Homo sapiens: one gene and its partners. The protein of the gene in region 2 purifies or fractionates together with the protein of the main gene of each other region. This does not show direct contact. Each region holds a gene or a part of one and is shown on either strand. Other genes may lie near its edges.

Evidence for each region. Proteins that work in one complex are often made in the same cells at the same time.
Region 1: the proteins of TCTN2 (region 2) and TCTN3 purify together in Homo sapiens (affinity purification with mass spectrometry; 3 studies listed by BioGRID and IntAct, with this or other methods). This does not show direct contact.
Region 3: the proteins of TCTN2 (region 2) and ALG12 purify together in Homo sapiens (affinity purification with mass spectrometry; 2 studies listed by BioGRID and IntAct, with this or other methods). This does not show direct contact.
Region 4: the proteins of TCTN2 (region 2) and POMT2 purify together in Homo sapiens (affinity purification with mass spectrometry; 2 studies listed by BioGRID and IntAct, with this or other methods). This does not show direct contact.

Annotation. Positions count from the first base shown.
Region 1 is NC_000010.11:95,676,140-95,680,427, reverse strand, and holds part of TCTN3 (tectonic-3 isoform a precursor), read left to right. Parts: intron 1-4,288.
Region 2 is NC_000012.12:123,690,673-123,695,749, reverse strand, and holds part of TCTN2 (tectonic-2 isoform 1 precursor), read right to left. Parts: coding exon 5,076-5,077; intron 3,093-5,075; coding exon 3,027-3,092; intron 909-3,026; coding exon 774-908; intron 531-773; coding exon 453-530; intron 1-452.
Region 3 is NC_000022.11:49,911,151-49,915,438, forward strand, and holds part of ALG12 (dol-P-Man:Man(7)GlcNAc(2)-PP-Dol alpha-1,6-mannosyltransferase), read right to left. Parts: intron 2,694-4,288; 5' UTR 2,616-2,693; coding exon 2,454-2,615; intron 2,368-2,453; coding exon 2,235-2,367; intron 1-2,234. UniProt on the Homo sapiens protein: Mannosyltransferase that operates in the biosynthetic pathway of dolichol-linked oligosaccharides, the glycan precursors employed in protein asparagine (N)-glycosylation.
Region 4 is NC_000014.9:77,275,096-77,279,383, reverse strand, and holds part of POMT2 (protein O-mannosyl-transferase 2), read left to right. Parts: intron 1-514; coding exon 515-655; intron 656-875; coding exon 876-990; intron 991-1,902; coding exon 1,903-2,008; 3' UTR 2,009-4,288. UniProt on the Homo sapiens protein: Transfers mannosyl residues to the hydroxyl group of serine or threonine residues. Coexpression of both POMT1 and POMT2 is necessary for enzyme activity, expression of either POMT1 or POMT2 alone is insufficient.

The DNA.
Region 1 (4,288 bases), on a different chromosome or scaffold from region 2:
GATTGTCTTATCAGTCATTTGTTAACCAAATAATTTTTTACCTTCCAAGAGCTAATTTATGTTAGCAACCAATGTTTGTTTAAAGTGAGCTGACATAATTTGTCAAGTCTATTCACCCTGCCTGATTACTGAAATTAACATGATGTCATGAATACCGCTTATATCCTTTTTTAAAAAAAATCTGACCCCAGATTATAGTACAGGTTAATTTCTTTTCAGTAATCCTACCATTATTACTATTCTGATTGATTCAACCACAGAAAACACCTTCCATAATTGTTCAATCTGTCAGCCACACAGTTATATGTGAGTCCCTGAGCCTGTTGATTGTGATTAAAGTTACCGCTGTGACTAGTTTATAGTTACCAGCTCTTGGTTGTATCTGCTCCATTAAATGAACACTTTTAATCTGTAGCAAACATATACCTATTGTTTATTATGCGCCTTAGGAGAGCTTTAGCATCTGCCTTGGTGTTTAAACCAATCTTTAGCTATAGAAGTTTAAAAACATGGTATTTTCATTTTACTTAGAAATGACGGCCGGGCGCGGTGGCTCACGCCTGTAATCCCAGCACTTTGGGAGGCCGAGGCGGGCGGATCACGAGGTCAGGAGATCGAGACCATCCCGGCTAAAATGGTGAAACCCCGTCTCTACTAAAACTACAAAAAATAGCCGGGCGTAGTGGCGGGCGCCTGTAGTCCTAGCTACTTGGGAGGCTGAGGCAGGAGAATGGCGTGAACCCGAGAGGCGGAGCTTGCAGTGAGCCGAGATCCCGCCACTGCACTCCAGCCTGGGCGACAGAGCGAGACTCCGTCTCAAAAAAAAAAAAAAAAAAAAAAAAAAGAAATGACTAGGTCCTAGTGAAATTATTCACATATAAACTGGCATGCCAATTTAGTAACTTATAATGAAAATCAAACAGATTTAAATTCTTACCTGTTGCACTGTACTTACATCCCAGAAATAAAGTAAACTTGAGACTACATTTAGGTCAGAAGTAAAATACCTTTGGGTCTCCCTCACAACAGGGTTGGGCAAGTTATTTCTCTTTGCCTAGAAATGGGGTCAACACTCAGGTTACCAGAAACTGTATTAATGAGAACATTCAATTATATTTTTTGGTTACTGTGTTGTTTGGAAAGATACCCACAGGACTGTTCACTGTGTATTTCCACATCTCTGGTTCCTTTAGGCATTGAAGTCACTCAGTGCCTTTTTTTTGTCTGGGTATTTTAACTGATAGCTTTTTCTAGTATTTAGCAAAAGTTAGCTTTTCAGGTTAGTTTGTCCCCGCTACAAAACCACACTACAGTCATTCACTTTAACTGGCCTAAGTGGGCGAGAGTTGAGAATTTTAGCTGTGCTTCATTCATACATAATTGAAGAAACATTATCTGTTCCAATTATTAAGTAAAAATTAATTGTTTGAATGTATTAATATGTGGTATGATATACACAAAACCACGTTCCTTTACTAAGTGTGATTTGAGGGATTTGCAAAGGTAATTTTGTGTAAAAATTTTCACTTTATGGGCTAACCAGCTCATCCCCATGAAAGACGCTATGCTCCTATAAAAGTATAAGGAGTTATAAAATGATACTTATATCTTATAGTGCTTACAATAAGCTTATAATAAAACATCTTAAAAGTATCATTTCATACTTATATGAAACTTATATCATAAAAGTTTATCAAATGCAAGCATTTCCTTCTATAATAAATTTTTTTTACTTCTTCAATCTTGAATGCAAATTTTCTCCAGAAGTCAGATAAACATACTCACTTTTTCTTTATGCATTTATGATTATTTGTCCTTAACTTGAAATCACTTCTCCGTCCACACAGGCTTTTGTCTAGGACATCTTGTGAAATTTTTTTTTTTTTTTTTTTTTGAGACAGTGTTTCACTCTTGTTTCCCAGCCTGGAGTACAGTGGTGTGATCTCGGCTCACTGCAACCTTCGCCTCCCAGGTTCAAGTGATTCTCCTGCCTCAGCCTTCCGAGTAGCTGGGACTACAGGCACCTGCAACCACGCCCAGCTAATTTTTTGTATTTTTAGTAAAGACGGAGTTTCACCATGTTGGCCAGGCTAGTCTCGAACTCCTGACCTCAGGTGATCCACCCGCCTCAACCTCCCAAAGTGCTGGGATTACAGGTGTGAGCCACCACGCCCAGCCTCTTGTGAAATTTTTTTCTCAGAATAGCAATAGCTTATCCAAAGAAAGCTAGTGTACATCTTCCAAAGCTTTTAAAATAAAAAAGAGGAGGAGTTACACTTGCAGAATGTATATCTTCTGGGATGCTTCTCCCTACTCCACTGGACACTGTTTGAAAGTTTGTAGTTTATAATATTCTTACCTAGGCTGTGTTGGTCAGCTTAGAATATCTAAGTGATAGGATAAAACTAAAGCTGAGTGGCAAACTGCCAGTCTATATACTGCATTTAGTCTATAGGCTTGTTTTGTTTGGCCCACAAAGCATTTTATTATTTAAGTTTATGCCAACATTTAAGAATCAAGAATTTCCCAGACATTCAGATTTCTGACTTCAATTGAAAATCTGACAGTATAAACCCTATTATATTCCTGCATGGCATAAAATCTTCAGTTGCTGAATGGTGATATCCACTTTTAGAAAGAGTACTCTACCCTGTTCTGCATTCATACAACCTAAGCCAACCCGCCCTTCACCATCCCACTTCTCTTTCAGGTTATCTGCTTAGGCTGGTAGGCATTTGTGTTTATAAACCTTGAACTCAAGCTGCTAGATGGTCAGTTGCATTGTGAACTGAACTATCTGAATGATTTTTCATTGTAAATATATAGCTATAGAAACACTTTAAATTCCTCTTTCTATAAAAAGTGAAGTAGCAAAATTTTTGGACCATTCCCAAGGACAAACAATAAAATAGAGGGAAAATACAGCAAAAAAAAAAAAAAAAAACAAAAAAAACTGTAGACTTCACTATCTTCTTGTATGATTATTATAATATATAAACATTTATTGAACATTTACTGTGTGACCGATACTAGTGGTATTTTTAATCAGTGTTTTTTGTAAGTGTTGAATTCTCACAACAAACCCATGAGGTAAACAGCATTTGTTTATATGGTATTCTGCCACTTACAATTTTATACTATTTAGGGTTCTAAAGGGATCTTTAAATTTGAGAATTAATAAAACACATCATATGTCATGTCTACATATAAACCCTTTAAATTAAAAAATATATCTCTAGGAAGAAACAACTAGTTTTAAGGAATATGCAGTATCAATTGAAACCAAAACAATAAGTGAATTTAAAAGACAATGTAGCATCACAGGATCATGGCTCTAAACCTTTCTAAAATTATAATATTTAATTTGTGTTTATCACCAAGTGAATCATCTACTCTTTAGATTATCTAGGAGATCCATTGTCTGCAGTTTATATGGTAAGCATGGGCTTTGAGTCAGACAGACCTAGGTCTAAATCAAGTTATTTTACTTCTCTAAATCTGTTTTCTCTTCTATAAAATGGAAATTAATAATACTCATTGGGTTGTACAGATTAAGTGAGATCATTAAAGTAAAACAGCACAGTTCCTGGTACGTAGTATATATTCAGTAAATATTACTCTTGATATCATTATTATCAATTTTATCATCATTAACTTTTTTGGTTCCAAGCTTCTATAGAAGTAGCGTATCAAGAAGTTTTGAGGCAAAACAGAAAAGAGAAAAGCAGGTATTAAAGCAATGTTTTTCAACCTTTGTTGACTATCACCCATGGTAAGAAAATATATTTTATATCATGACCGAGTTTGCAACACACATGTACATAAAATAGACACAAAAGTTTTATGAAACAATGCCCTTACTATACCCAGTGCACCCACAATTTGTGATTTTCAGTATCACAACAGAAAATGTGATATTTTCTGGCCGGGCGCGGTGACTCACACCTGTAATCCTAGCACTTTGGGAGGCCAAGGTGGGCAGATCCCTTAAGTTCAGGAGTTCAAGACCAAGTCTGGCCAACATGGTGAAACCCTGTCTCTACTAAAAATACAAAAATTACCTGGAAATTACTCAAACCCGTGAGACGGAGGTTGCAGTGAGCAAAGATCCTGCCACTGCACTCCAGCCTGGGTGACAGAGCAAGACTTTTTCTCAAAAAAAAAAAAAAAAAAGATATTTTCTATTCTGGTTTATTCTGGTTTGTTTTTGTATTTTAAATGCTAGACAAAACCCACTAGTGGGTCACAATTTGCAATTTGAAAAACACTTTCAGAGGATACATCTCTG
Region 2 (5,077 bases):
GGTCAGGAATTCAAGACCAGCCTGGCCAACACGGTGAACAACAGCCTATCTCTACTAAAAATATAAAAATTATATTAAAGTGAGCAACCCTGCAAGCCTCTCTTTGGAGAAGTAGCAGATGAATAAAACTTCCTGTGTTGTGTGATTAAAAAAAAAAAAAAAAAGCCAGGCATGGTGGTGTGCACCTGTAATCCCAGCTACTCAGGAGGCTGAGGCAAGAAAATCTCTTGAACCCAGGAGGTGCAGGTTGCAGTGAGCCGAGATTGCGCCACTGCACTCCAGACTAGGCAACAGAGCAAGACTCCGTCTCAAAAAAAGAAAAAGAGAAAATAAAGAAAAAGGTCAGAGTCAGAAACTAAATTGGAGAGAGTTACTTATAACCATCCTGATGGCTGGGAGTGTTGAACTAAAGTATGTTTGTAAGATCAATGACTGGCATATACTCATCTTACCTGGATTTCCAGATAATTCTTCTTCATTACCACTATTATAGCTTAAAAATTTTACTACAAATCTCTGTGTCATTATCCCTAGAAATAAAACAAAATAAAATATAATGTGCACCATTTCACTAGGAAAAGAAATTATTCTCCATAGTGTTTACCTTAAAATTGCATTTTGTCATACAAAGTGTACTCTCGTTAATTAAATCATAAATGCACATAAGAAACAAGTCCAACTTAGTTTTATGGGTTATAATTATGAGAATCTTGAAAAGAGGAAAAAAAAATACTTTTCAGTGAAAGCATGCTTGCTACCCTCATCAAAGTTACCTTTCTGGTGGGCATTAATCTCTGCCCTAAAAATTTTAACATTTATTTCACTGATGGTATTATTATTCCATTTGAAAATATAATGTTCTTCCACATTCACAATTCTAGGGGTTGATCCGTTATTTAAAGGAGTTTCTGCAAATACAAGAATATGTTCATAAATTAAAGACCCTCTTTGAGCCTGACTCTGTTACTGGGAGGTTCTCTCTGCTTGCGTGGCCTTCCCCAAGTGCCCTGCCCCTGCCCTCCCTATCTCCAGCTCCCTAACATGGCACGGTCACTGCTTCCTTGAGGAAGCCTGCCCTGGTCCCACCAAGTCAGCATTAGCTGCCTCCTCTATGCCATCACAGTACCCAGAATGAGATCTGTTCCTTTCATTTCTATATCTCCAGCACCTGGCTCATAGCTTGCCATGGAGCATGCACTTGGTAAAATGTTTGTGAGATGAAAGACCAGAGGGTCAGTTCCGCCAGGGCAGGGGCCCGCTATCTAGTTCCCTACTACGGCGTAGGAACTCCACTAACATTTGATGAGCCAATGAATAAATTTGAGAAGTACAACACATCAGAAAGAGACACCCAGCACTTGGGGAGGCCGAGGTGGGCAGATCACCTGAGGTCAAGAGTTCGAGACCAGCCTGGCCAGCATGGCGAAACCCTGTCTCTACTAAAAATACAAAAATTAGGCCGGGTGCGGTGGCTCACGCCTGTAATCCCAGCACTTTGGGAGGCTGAGGCAGGCAGATCACGAGGTCAGGAGTTCAAGACCAGCCTGGCCAACACAGTGAAACCCCCTCTCTACTAACAATACAAAAAATCAGCCAGGCATGGGGGCAGGCACCTGTAATCCCAGCTACTCGGGAGGCTGAGGCAGAAGAATCGTTTGAACCCAGGAGGCAGAGGTTGCAGTGAGTGGAGACTGTGTCACTACACTCCAGTCTGGGTGACAGTGAGACTGTCTCAAAAAAAAAAAAATACAAAAAAATACAAAAATTAGCCGGGATTGGTGGCAGGTGCCTGTAATCCCAGCTACTCAGGAGGCTAAGGCATGAGAATTGCTTGAACCTGGGAGGTGGAGGGTACAGTGAGCTGAGATCACCCTATTGCACTCCAGCCTGGGCGACAGAGCAAGACTCTGTCTCCAATTAAAAAAAAAAAAGAAAAGAAAGAAACAAACAGTATCCTTCATTAAAAACTAAAGTTCTGGTAAAATTAGCCAAACTGAGCCAGTCGCCGTGGCTCACGCCTGTAACCCCTGCACTTTGGGAGGCCAAGGCAGGTGGATCACCTGAGGTCAGGAGTTCGAAACCAGCCTGGCCAACATGGTGAAACCCCGTCTCTACTAAAATACAAAAATTAGCCAGGCATATGGTGGTGAACACCTGTAATCCCAGCTACTTGGGAGACTGAGGCAGGAGAACTGCTTGAACCCAGGAAGTGGAGGTTATAGTGAGCCAAGATTACACCACTGCACTCCAGCCTGGGTGACAGAGCAAGAATCCATCTCAAAAAAAAAAAAAAAATCTGCCAAACTCTACGTAACTTATTTGGCTGCATCACAATTGGAAAGTTTAATTATCAAAAAAAAAAAAAAAAAAAAAGGAAAGAAAGCAAAAAGTGAAAATGCTGTGCCCTAAAAAGTTCTTTTAACTGGTCGGGCGCGGTGGCTCACACCTATAATCCCAGCACTTTGGGAGGCCAAGGCAAGTGGATCACCTGAGGTCGGGAGTTCGAGACCAGCCTGACCAACAGGGAGAAACCCCGTCTCTACTAAAAATACAAAATTAGCTGGGTGTGGTGGCGGGTGACTATAATCCCAGCTACTCAGGGGGCTGAGGCAGGAGAATCACTTGAACTCAGGAGGCGGAGGTTGCAGTGAGCCGAGATCATGCCATTGCACTCCAGCCTGGGTGACAAGAACAAAACTCCGCCTCAAAAAAAAAAAAAAAAAAAAAAAAAGAATTATTTAACTATCAAACATTTAAGGAAAGGTTCACGGAAGCTGGAACTAGAAGGGTCGGTGGAACTCAGAGAATCCAGGACTGTGGAGGAGCAGGCTCAAGGTCACAGAGAGCACTCTAAAGCCCAGCAGGACAGAACGAGGAACAAATGAAATGTTCCTGGCAGATCTTTCTAACTATTGTGAACCTTTTTAAATGACTAACAAAAATATACACTCTGAGGGTATATATTACTTGTAAGAAATGACATATCTGTTTCTGAAGAAATGACGTCAAAGTGTAACATTAAATACCTGTATTGGTGATGAATTTGTCTAGGTCAGTTGCTTCCTCATAGATCACTTTTGGTGTAACTATGCCTAAAGAGATAACATAAATTAACTTCCACAGGCGTACACATGGCCTACCATGATCACACTTACTCAAAGTATAGCTTACAAAGCAAATATGGTGACCGCAACTGCCCAGGGTGCTGACTACAAAACCCTCCCCACTCCCCAAAAACCATCAGATAGGAGTCCCCATCCTCTTAGCATCTAATTATAACGGAGGAAGAAAATCCACAACAAACACACAAACAAACAAAAACCAGGGTCACTGTGACATAAAAACAAATATGCAGTTCACTGCTGGTGGCAATACAAAATGGTGCAGACACTGTAGAAAACAATTGGCCAGGCGCAGGGGCTCACGCCTATAATCCCAGCACTTTGGGAGGCCGAGGCAGGCAGATTGCCTGAGGTCAGTTTGAGACCAGTCTGGCCAACATGGTGAAACCTCCTCTCTACTAAAAATACAAAAAAATTAGCCGGGCGTGGTGGCTCATGCCCGTAATCCCAGCACTCTGGGAGGCCGAGGTGGGTGGATCACCTGAGGTCAGGAGTTCGAGATCTGCCTGGCCAACATGGTGAAATCCCATCTCTACTAAACTTCGTCTCTACTAAAAATACAAAAATTAGCAGGGCGTGGTGGTGGGTGCCTGTAATCCCAGCTACTCGGGAGGCTGAGGCAGGAGAATCGCTTGAACCCAGGAGGTGGAGGTTGCCGTGAGCCGAGATCGCGCCATCGCACTCCAGCCTGGCGGACAAGAGCAAGACTTGGTCTCAAAAAAAAAAAAATTAGCCAGGTGTGGTGGCACATGCCTGTAATCTCAGCTACTTGGGAGGCTGAGGCAGGGGAATCGCTTGAACCAGGGAGGTGGAGGTTGCAGCGAGCCGAGATCACGTCACTGCACTCCAGCCTGGGTGACAGAGCAAGACTCCCTCTCAAAAAAAAAACCAAAAAAACAAAAAAAAAACAATTTGGTGGGTCCTCAAGAAGTCATATTAGCATGACCTGTCAGTTCCACTCCTAGGTGTCTACCCAAAAGAAATAAAAACACACATCTACGCAAAAACTTGGACACGAGTGTTCATGGCAGCACTATTCACAACAGTCAGAGATGAAAACAACCCACATGTCCATCAACTGAGGAATGGACAAACACAATGTGCTCTGTCCATGCAATGGACTATGATTCAGCCATAAAAAGGAATGAAGTGCTGCCACACACTACAAACACGGATGAACCATGGAACACCATGCTCAGTGAAAGAAGCCAGACACAAAAGGCCACATAGTGTATGATTCTGTTTCTAGGGAACACCCAGAATAAGCAATCCACGGAGACAGAAAGCAGATTGGTGGCTGCCAGGAGCTGAGGGAAGAGGGGTAGGGAGTGACTGCTAATGGGTACAGATGCCCTTCTGAGGCGATGAAACGTTCTGGAACTAGAGAGAGGTGATGGTGGCACAACAGTGTGGAAGGTACTAATGTCAATGAATTGTACACTTTAAAAGGGTTAATTCTGGTGGGACGCGATGGCTTACACCTGTAATCCCAGCACTTTGGGAGGCCTAGGAGAGTGGATCACCTGAGGTCAGGAGTTCAAGGTCAACCTGGCCAACACAGTGAAACCCCATCTTTACCAAAAACACAAAAATTAGCCAGTCATGGTGGCAGGCACCTGTAGTCCCAGCTACTCGGGAAGCTGAGGCAGGAGAATCGCTTGAACTTAGGAGGCAGAGGGTACAGTGAGCCGAGATCACGCCACTGCACTCCAACCTGCGTGACGGAGAAACAAACAAAAAGGCTAAATTTATGTTATTTGAATTTTACTTCAATTTCAAAATAATTAATATGCAATATGCTGTCTTACGGAACTAAACTTTTTCCAAAGAAAATAATTGGCAGTTCAAATATTATTTGAAGTTGAACCAGTAGAAATGATTTATACTCTCATGAGATCATACTTTATATTCATGTTTGGGCCTGTGTTCTTTTTTCAAAGAAATGTAACATACCT
Region 3 (4,288 bases), on a different chromosome or scaffold from region 2:
CTCACCGTGGACCGGCCTGTCAGCCGCTGGCAAGAGACTGAAAACAGGAAGAAAAATGAACTTCTGGGTGGCTCTTGCTACCTTTCCAGAAGGCCAGAGGAACTTCGAAGCCATGTGAGAAGCAACTGGGTCCAGGCAGCTGTGGGGGCCAATGGGCAGAGATACCCAGGCACTGCCAAGGGGGCCACGGATGTCTGAGGGCTGGACCTGCTGTTCCCAGAATACCCCATGTGCATACCAGGCATTTTCTTTTCACTGATTGCTGGATTCGGACTGCAAATGTCTTTTTTTTTTTCTTTTTAAGGACAGAGTTTCCCTCTGTTGCTCAGGCTGGAGTGCAGTGGCATAATCTCGGCTCACTGCAACCTCTGCCTTCCGGGTTCAAGCAATTCTCCTACCTCAGCCTCCGGAGTAGCTGGGATTATAGGCGCATGCCAACACGCCCGGCTAATTTTTGTATTTTTAGTAGAGACAAGGTTTCCCATGTTGGCCAGGATGGTCTCAAACTCCTGACCTCAGGTGATCCCCCCGCCTCGGCCTCCCAAAGTGCTGGGATTACAGGCGTGAGCCACCATGCCCAGTCTGAATGTCTTAATAGGACATTTTTCACTGATACTCACAAGTGGGTCTGGCTCCAGCTGCTGTATTTTTGGTGCTGGAATTTCCCCCGGGCTTTTAAACAATTCACAGACCCCAGCAAAGCCCCGCTTCCCCTTTTCCCCATCAGGTCCATCCCCTGCGTCTCTTCTCTTGGTTTTCCATCTTCCCAAATGCCCAACAATCTCAACCCCGTGCCCAACAAGGGTAGCCTCGGCCTCACGATCAGCCTCGGCTGCGGGATCACCCTCGGCCCCGGGATCAGCCTCGGCCACGGGATCACCCTCGGCCCCGGGATCAGCCTCGGCCGCGGGATCAGCCTGGCCCCGGGATCACCCTCGGCCCCGGGATCACCCTCGGCCCCGGGATCAGCCTGGCCCCAGGATCACCCTCGGCCCCGGGATCACCCTCGGCCCCAGGATGACATGCTCTTCATCCAGAGAGGAAGGATTTTGGCCTGTGGCAGGGGCTGGGGGGGGCACTAGCAATTCCAGGTCACCTTAGTGGGATCAGGAAGGACACAGGGTGGGCTCCCGTTCACCAGCTGAAGCTGCAGCCCTCCAAGGTTCTGTCCAGCTGGAGTCCACCCAGCTCTGCCCAACCTCCCAACCTCTTGCTGCCAACCCTGGAATAAGCAGAAGCTTCCAAGGGAATGTGGACTCAGCCCCGGAATTGCCTGTGGACTTCCTTTCCCTGGCTCGTGGCCCCCCAACTCCTCCCCATTTGGGGCTTCCTGATGCCTCTACAGGACATGCACGGCTTGTCCAGCTGTCCCCGTGCCATGGTGGGTTTCCGTTCCCAATCTGCCCCTTCAAGAAGCAGAACTGCTCCTTCCCCAGGAACGTGCTACTTCTTAAAGCTCTCCACACAAGCTGGACTGACTCGCTGGAAGCATGTCTGGGTATTAAAAGCAATAAAAGCGTACTGAAATAAAAAAGTGGTGATTGCTGACTTCAAAAACTCAGGTTGTGTGACTGGGCGTGGTGGCTCATGCCTGTAATCCCAGCACTGTGGGAGGCTGAGGTGGGACAATCACTTGAGCCCAGGAGTTCAAAGCTGTAGTGAGCTATGATTGCACCACTGCACTTCAGCCTAGGTGACACAGCAAGGCCCTGTCTCAAAAAAGAAAAAAAAATCGGTTTTTAGAACAATATGTACAAAACGTTCTAATTTTTTTTTTTTAAAGTCCTCATGTGGGCACAGAGAAAGACCCAGGATTTGCACACAGGCCCTGCAGTGGTGGCCTCTGGGAATGTGAGGTTTCTGTTTGTAACATTCCCCAAGGCAAATGGTGCTGCTTCTGCAGGAATAAAGGCTGTTGACCCCATGGGGGCTTGCCAGGTGAGGCGGGAGCAGCAGGCTCAGGTGGCGAGAGCTGCCTCACAGGCAGTCGGCATTTCTCTTGTACCTGCCGTCACCCCTAATTTCACAGTCAAGAGTGTGGAGGCACAGAGGGGCTGACTCAGACGTCTTAGGCCTGACCTGAGCACCTGCTCTGAGCCGCCATGCCACGGTGATCGAGGGCAGGCAAGACTAACAGACAGCGTTCCTGGGCAGGAGGGACCGCGGCCTCGCTGAGGTCACCCGATGACACCACAGTCCCTCACTCCCTCCTCCTTTGTTGAAGACCCCCTTACCTATTAGCTGAGAGTAAAACTTGGACATTTCTAACAGCGAAAGCACGTAAACCGCGGGGCTGGAGAACACTGCGATCACCACTGGCCCGAGGAACGTCCTGGGGACGACTCCGGGGAACTCAAGATGGTCGTACTGCGAGGAGAAGGGCAGGTCAGTGCACCGGGGCCCTGCCAGCTGGTAACATGAGGTTTTCCCCAAAGACAGCAGGGGCCCCTCACCTGCTCCAGGTCTTGCCAGTGGTAGAGCAGGTCATGTGTGGCCTGCAGGTTGAAGCTCTCCTCCACTTTGGTGTAGGGACAGATGACCAGGTGGACAGTGGCTACGGCCACCAGCAGCCCCAGCAGCAGGGGCCGCCTGCCTGATGACCCCTTTCCAGCCATTCCAGGCTTTCAGCTTCACGTACCTTCACAGGCCAACAGTGCGAGACACCAGCCGTTAGCACTGCCACTCCACGCATGCTGGAAAAGTGGAAACAGATTCCTGAGGTTCGAAAGTCACGCTTGCGCTCACGTTTGGGAGATCCGGGTAAAGGGTTAGCAGAATTCTCTGAACTACTGTCTTAGTCGCACTACTACAAATCTGAAAACGCATCAAGATGGAAAGTTTGGAGAAAAAATCACACTTGAGAATCTTTCATACTGTAACCAGTGATCTGACACTTCCAGCTCTGTGAATGTTTTTCTAGGCAGAAGGATCTCAGTCGCAGAACCCTGAGTCTGACCAGGCCTGGGCCACGAGGGCAATGGAGGGTGGTAAATGGCCCCTGCCCCCCAGTCTAAATCTGGCAGGAGAGTCAGCAAAACCCAGGCTTGGCCCCGAGGGAACCGGCTGAAGAAGACGGAATGGGAGGCTGAGGGGTGCCAGTTAGCTGGGTGGGAGGCACCAAGCTGGAGAGTGGTGGACAGGGGCCCCGGGAGGGCAAGAAACTGAACGTAGTACAGCTGCTGGGACACAGGGCTCGAGTGGCCAGCAAAGCCCCCGCTCCCAGGAATGGTGGGATGGGGCTGTGGACGCCTGCGCCGAACCCCACCCTGGGGGCTGGGAGAAGCCATGGCCGGCTTTCCCAAAGGTGGCACCACACTGGCCATGAGCCTGCATGTGAGCCTGGGAAGACTGGCAATGGGTCCCCCAAACACTAACAGGACAACCTCAGGGGCCCGTGGCACGGAGCTTCCTGAGAGGCCAGCAACATGTCCAGCTGCTACACGTGAGAGACCAAGGGAGGGGAGGGGGCAAACTCTTCACGTTTCTGGCTTCTTTTAAAACAGATTTGATTTTATTCAATCCAAACCAGAAGGGCCAGAAGCAAAGGGAGAGAGAACCCCAGGGCTTACCATTTATTAAAACTACTTTAAAAATTTTTTTTAAGAGACAGCGTCTTACTCTGTCACCCAAGCTGGAGTGCAGTGGAGTGATCATGGCTCACTGCAGCCTCAAACTCCTGGGATCCTTTTGCCTGAGCCTCCTGAGTAGCCGCAGCTACAGGTGTGGGTCACCACACTCAGCTAAGTTTTCTTATTTTTTGTAAAGACAGGGTCTTGCTTTGTAGCCCAGGCTGGTATGGAATTCCTGGCTTCAAGCCATCTTCCTACCTTGGCCTCCTGAAGTATTGGGATTACAGGCGTGGGCCACCATGCCCAGCCAAAACTATCTTTTGATCAAACGGAGAGTTAAGAAGTATACAAAGATGGCAACCAAAGGAAAATCTGTAGATTAGAAGGAAGGAGAACCCTATTTGATATGGTGGGCAGGGGGTGGAGAGAAAGAAAAAAGAAAGCTTTAATAATTTTACGACTGAAATGGTATGCAGTTCTCTCCTTTGCCAAATATAAAAACCTGGGGCCGGGCGCGGTCGCTCATTCCCGTAATCCCAGCTCTTTGGGAGGCTGAGGGCCAGGTGCGGTGGCTCATTCCCATAATCCCAGCTCTTCGGGAGGCTGAGGTGGGTGGATCACGAGGTCAGCAGATCAAGACCATCCTGGCCAACATGGTGAAACCCTGTCTCTACTAAAAATACAAAAATTAGCTGGGCATGGTAGTGCACGCCTATAAT
Region 4 (4,288 bases), on a different chromosome or scaffold from region 2:
ATTGAGTTCCCATCCCAGTGCTGTTCTTGGTAACTTTGGCTGCCAGACCATGGGCCACAGCACCTGAGACAGTCACACAGGCCCTTTTGCCTCTGCAGCTCTCTGTCTGAACAGTCATAGTCCCAGACACCTCCTCACTCCATCCTCACCTGTAACCTCACCTTAGCGCCTGTCTGCCGCTGCAAAGATCTGTGTGGCAGCAAAGATGTGGGAGGTGGAAGTAGGGAGTGAAGCTGTCTGCAGGCGCAGAAGGGTTTCTTTAGAGGCTGGGCTGCCTCCTGCTGGTGCTTGGTGCACCTGCCATTGGTGCCCAGGCCTCACTAGGCTGGGCCCTGACCAGAGCTCTCGAGCCCCAGCTGCTCCTCTCCAGTTTCTGTAGCGTGGTTTGGGTTGGTCCAATGAGGTGATATGACATATTCAAGGTCACACAGCAAGGAAGGGGCAGAGCTGGACCAGAGCCTGGAATCTCTGCCCGCTCCTTGTCTTCTGACTGGGCTGTGCTGCTTGGGCCCAGGGTTGTCCCAGGTCCTGCTTCGAGGAGGCGGCCAGGTCCTGCTCGGCTGGACACTCCATTACTTCCCGTTTTTCCTGATGGGCCGGGTCCTCTACTTCCACCACTACTTCCCAGCCATGCTCTTCTCAAGCATGTTGACAGGTCAGTGCCACCCACCTGGACTTGGGAGACAGAGCAGGTGGAGGGCGGGCCACTGTTGGGCAGCAGTGCTGGGAGTGACTCTGCTCCTTGACGGGAGGCCACTGTGGGGCAGCAGTGCTGGGAGTGACTCTCTGCTCCTTGACTTGGAGTGCCTCCTTCTTCTGTAGCCCAGAAGTCACCCCCTGCCTGGCTGACTCCAGGTTTCTCTCCTCTCCTCTAGGCATTCTGTGGGACACCCTCCTGCGGCTCTGTGCCTGGGGCTTGGCCTCATGGCCCCTGGCGAGGGGCATACATGTGGCGGGAATCCTGAGCCTGCTCCTGGGAACTGCCTACAGGTGAGCATCTCTGCACCTCACATGCCCTCCCAGTGTGGGCTCAGCAGTGCCTCAGCCCTGATGCATTCGAGAATCCCCTGCGGTGCTTTTAACACCACCAGTGCCCATGCCTGGAGGTTCTGCGTCACCCAAGCCCAGGTGGGGCCGTGGTTTCCAGAGTCCCCCAGGTGATCCTAATGTGCAGCCAGGTAGGAGAAGCAGGGCTTAACTCTGCCTTTTCCCCTTCTGCCGGTGGTTCAGCTTTTGTGCCATCCCAGCGCACCTGGAAGGGTACCCCTCTAGTGACAGTGACTCTGTGCCAGAACAGCTCTCAGAGGGGGAGTGTGGGAATGGGGGGCAGGGAACCCCTCTTTAGTCACCATGGCCCCCTGTCAGAACAGCTCTCCGGGTGAGGGAGGGGGGAACCGGGGGGCAATGGGGGACAGGGCACCCCTCTTTAGTCACTGTGGCCCCCTGCCGGAAGAGCTCTCGACGGGTGGGGTGGGAAGGGTGGGAATGGGAAGTGTGTGGCTGAGTGGCTGAAAGGGAGAGTTGTTTGGAAGGCTCCCCGCTTCCCCAGTCCCTGGCCTTGGTGCTGGGCCTGTGGCCTGTGAGCACATGCCTGCCTAAGAGGGTTACATTCACATGTTGACAAACACCCCTGGCCAAATAGCCCATGACAAGACCCCTAGAAGGGTTGCCCTCCTGGGCCTCTTGGGAAGAGCCCTTTCCATGATTGTCATTGAGTCAGCATCTACTAAGCTCTCCAGCTACAGTGTGCCCCAGTGGGACTCAGACAGACAAGGCCGTGAAAGAGAACCGGGCTTGGCGATGGGGAATTTCTCTGGAGCTCCAGCAGGAGGAATGGAATTCAAAGCCCCTCAGCTGAGGCACTGGGGGTGCCAACTGCCTCCTACTGGTTCTCTCTCACAGCTTCTACCTCTTCCACCCTCTGGCTTACGGGATGGTTGGTCCCCTGGCCCAGGACCCCCAAAGTCCAATGGCAGGACTAAGGTGGCTGGACTCATGGGACTTTTGAGGCCACTGCAAAGATTCCAGCCTGGGTCCAGGAACTTCCCAGGAGAGCCAGCTGGGAAGCAGTACTGGACCATCCGGCCATGAGGAAGCTGCCTAAGGAGCCCGAAGAATTCTGCTGCTCACCAGGACCCAGCTCTGGGAGTGCAGCTGGAATGGAACCCAGCATTGGAGAGAGCCGGGAGAGAGCCGCAGCTCCGTCCACAGCACCACGGAGAGGACAGCGCCTCTTGGGCTGCTCCCTCGTGCACAGCGCAGGGGAGGATGGGTGCCAGAGGGTGGGAGTGGGTGCGCGTGTGTGTATGTGAGGGCATGTTGTCCATATCCCTGTGGAATACAGACCGTGTAACTGGACAGCTGAGTGTCATAAACTCTAAAATAGTCCAGGCTATAGTAATATTTTCTGGTATTTTTTTCTGTTGGATTTCTTTGGTTTTGGTTTGTAAGATCCATCAAAAATTCTCAGACCTCTGAGAGGGCCTTGAGGGCAGAGAATACTGACCTCACCTTGGGATGTCACCAAAGGCAGAGCAGATGGGACTGTCAAAGTTGTGCTGCCCTCCCTCCCACAAACAAATGAATCCAGCGTGGAGGAAGGCGCGCCGCCCCGAGCTGGAGGGCCTGGCTCCCACCATGCCCCCCAGTGGCTGCAGGTAGCTGGACTTCCTGCCTGTGACGCACAGAGAGCAGCGGACTCCGGAGCGTCAGCCTGCCTTAGCCCTTGGTTCCTCGTTTTTTGGGATTGTCACACTGTGACACTCGGGAGGAACGATGTCCTATCCTGGGCTGCTCAGTGTTCCCAGGCCCTGTGTGCCAGAGGCCAGGTCTCTCCAAGTGCATCTAGCCTGGCCTGGAGGGCAAGGCAGATGCATTCTCCTGGCTGCTGGGAGAGCCCATGGGAACCTTGCTTAGCGCCCAAGGTAGATGAGAGACAGGGCAGGGAATCTGCGTGGTGCTGGGATGTGGGGACTCTGGCCTCTCCAGACTAATGTTCCTGTCACCTGCTGAGCTTTCCCAGTGTCACTTCTGCAGTCCTCCTCTGCTCACCCCTCCCTCACTCCGTGGGCAATTCCCTTTCTCTCTGTCACTGCTTCAGCAGTGAAGACCCATGGCACCTAGAAATGCATGCCAGCTTCCTGCGTCTACCACTCTGCAGCTCAAACAAGAAGCTCAGAGCTGCCCCTTCCACTTCCTCCCCAAAAGGGATGAAGAAAACCCTGTGGTAGAACCAAACCACCCAAGGCCAGCCCTTAAGCCTGCCTCCACCTTCCTGGTGCATGACAAAATATTTCTTTTGTCTCAGAGGACTTTGATGCTTCAATATTTAATGATGAATCCGCCACACTCCATTTTCCCTCCTCTGAAGCTCCCAACAACTCTGACAGGGTCAGATCTCTTTAAAGCATCTTCAGGAGGCGGTTGCCACGGAGACTGGATATTGGTCCCAGGGACAGGCTGTGCTACCTACTGGGTGGTGGGGAGGGAAGCTTCTGGCCATGCTTGGGCATTCAGACCAACCATCATTAATGTTAATAGAGGAAATGCAGCAACGTCAAAAGCAAGGCAGGTTGGTTAATTAGATCTGGGGCCCGATGACCTCCCTTTCCCACTGCTACAGCCCTTTTGACTTCCCCCAGCAGGAAGCGCTGTCTGTGCGGCTGAGTCTGGGCCACTTGCTTAATTGCATTTCTGGCAGGGAAGGAGAGGAGGGATGGAGAAGCTCTGCTCGCTGCTTCCACCTCACCGTGTGTCCTCCCCTCCCCTCCCTTCCTCTCCTCCCCACAGGCGGAATTGCTTTCTTCTGAGCCGGGTGGGCTCTCCTGCAGGGAGAATGCAGGGGTCTGTGCTTGGCTCTTAGCAAAGCAGGTGGCCCACAGTGACCTCCAGGAGGTGGCTGATTTTCCTTTGTGCCTTCTTATTTCTCAGTAGGAACTTGGAAGGGAAGAGCTCTGAAGGAGCCAGAGGGGCAGCCACCTTGCATGAGGGTGAGGAAGGAGAAGCCCAGCCAGCCTCTACCCATCCCTCCCTCCCAATTAGGCTGCACTGGGGCCGAACGCTTCCCTGGGCTCCCACTGCCTTCTAAGGAGCCAAGGAGAATTCCCTGCCCACTTTCTGTTCCTCCATGCCCAAACTGGCAGATGCTTCTCTGGGAGCAAGGCCACATGGGCTGATGCAGCTTTGAGTGCTCAGGTTCTGTTTTCTGGAAGTTGCTGGAGAAGGGCTGTCAGGGTGCTTCTATGAATATGGGCTTCAGCTGTAGCACTTGGCAGAAACGTGATGTGTC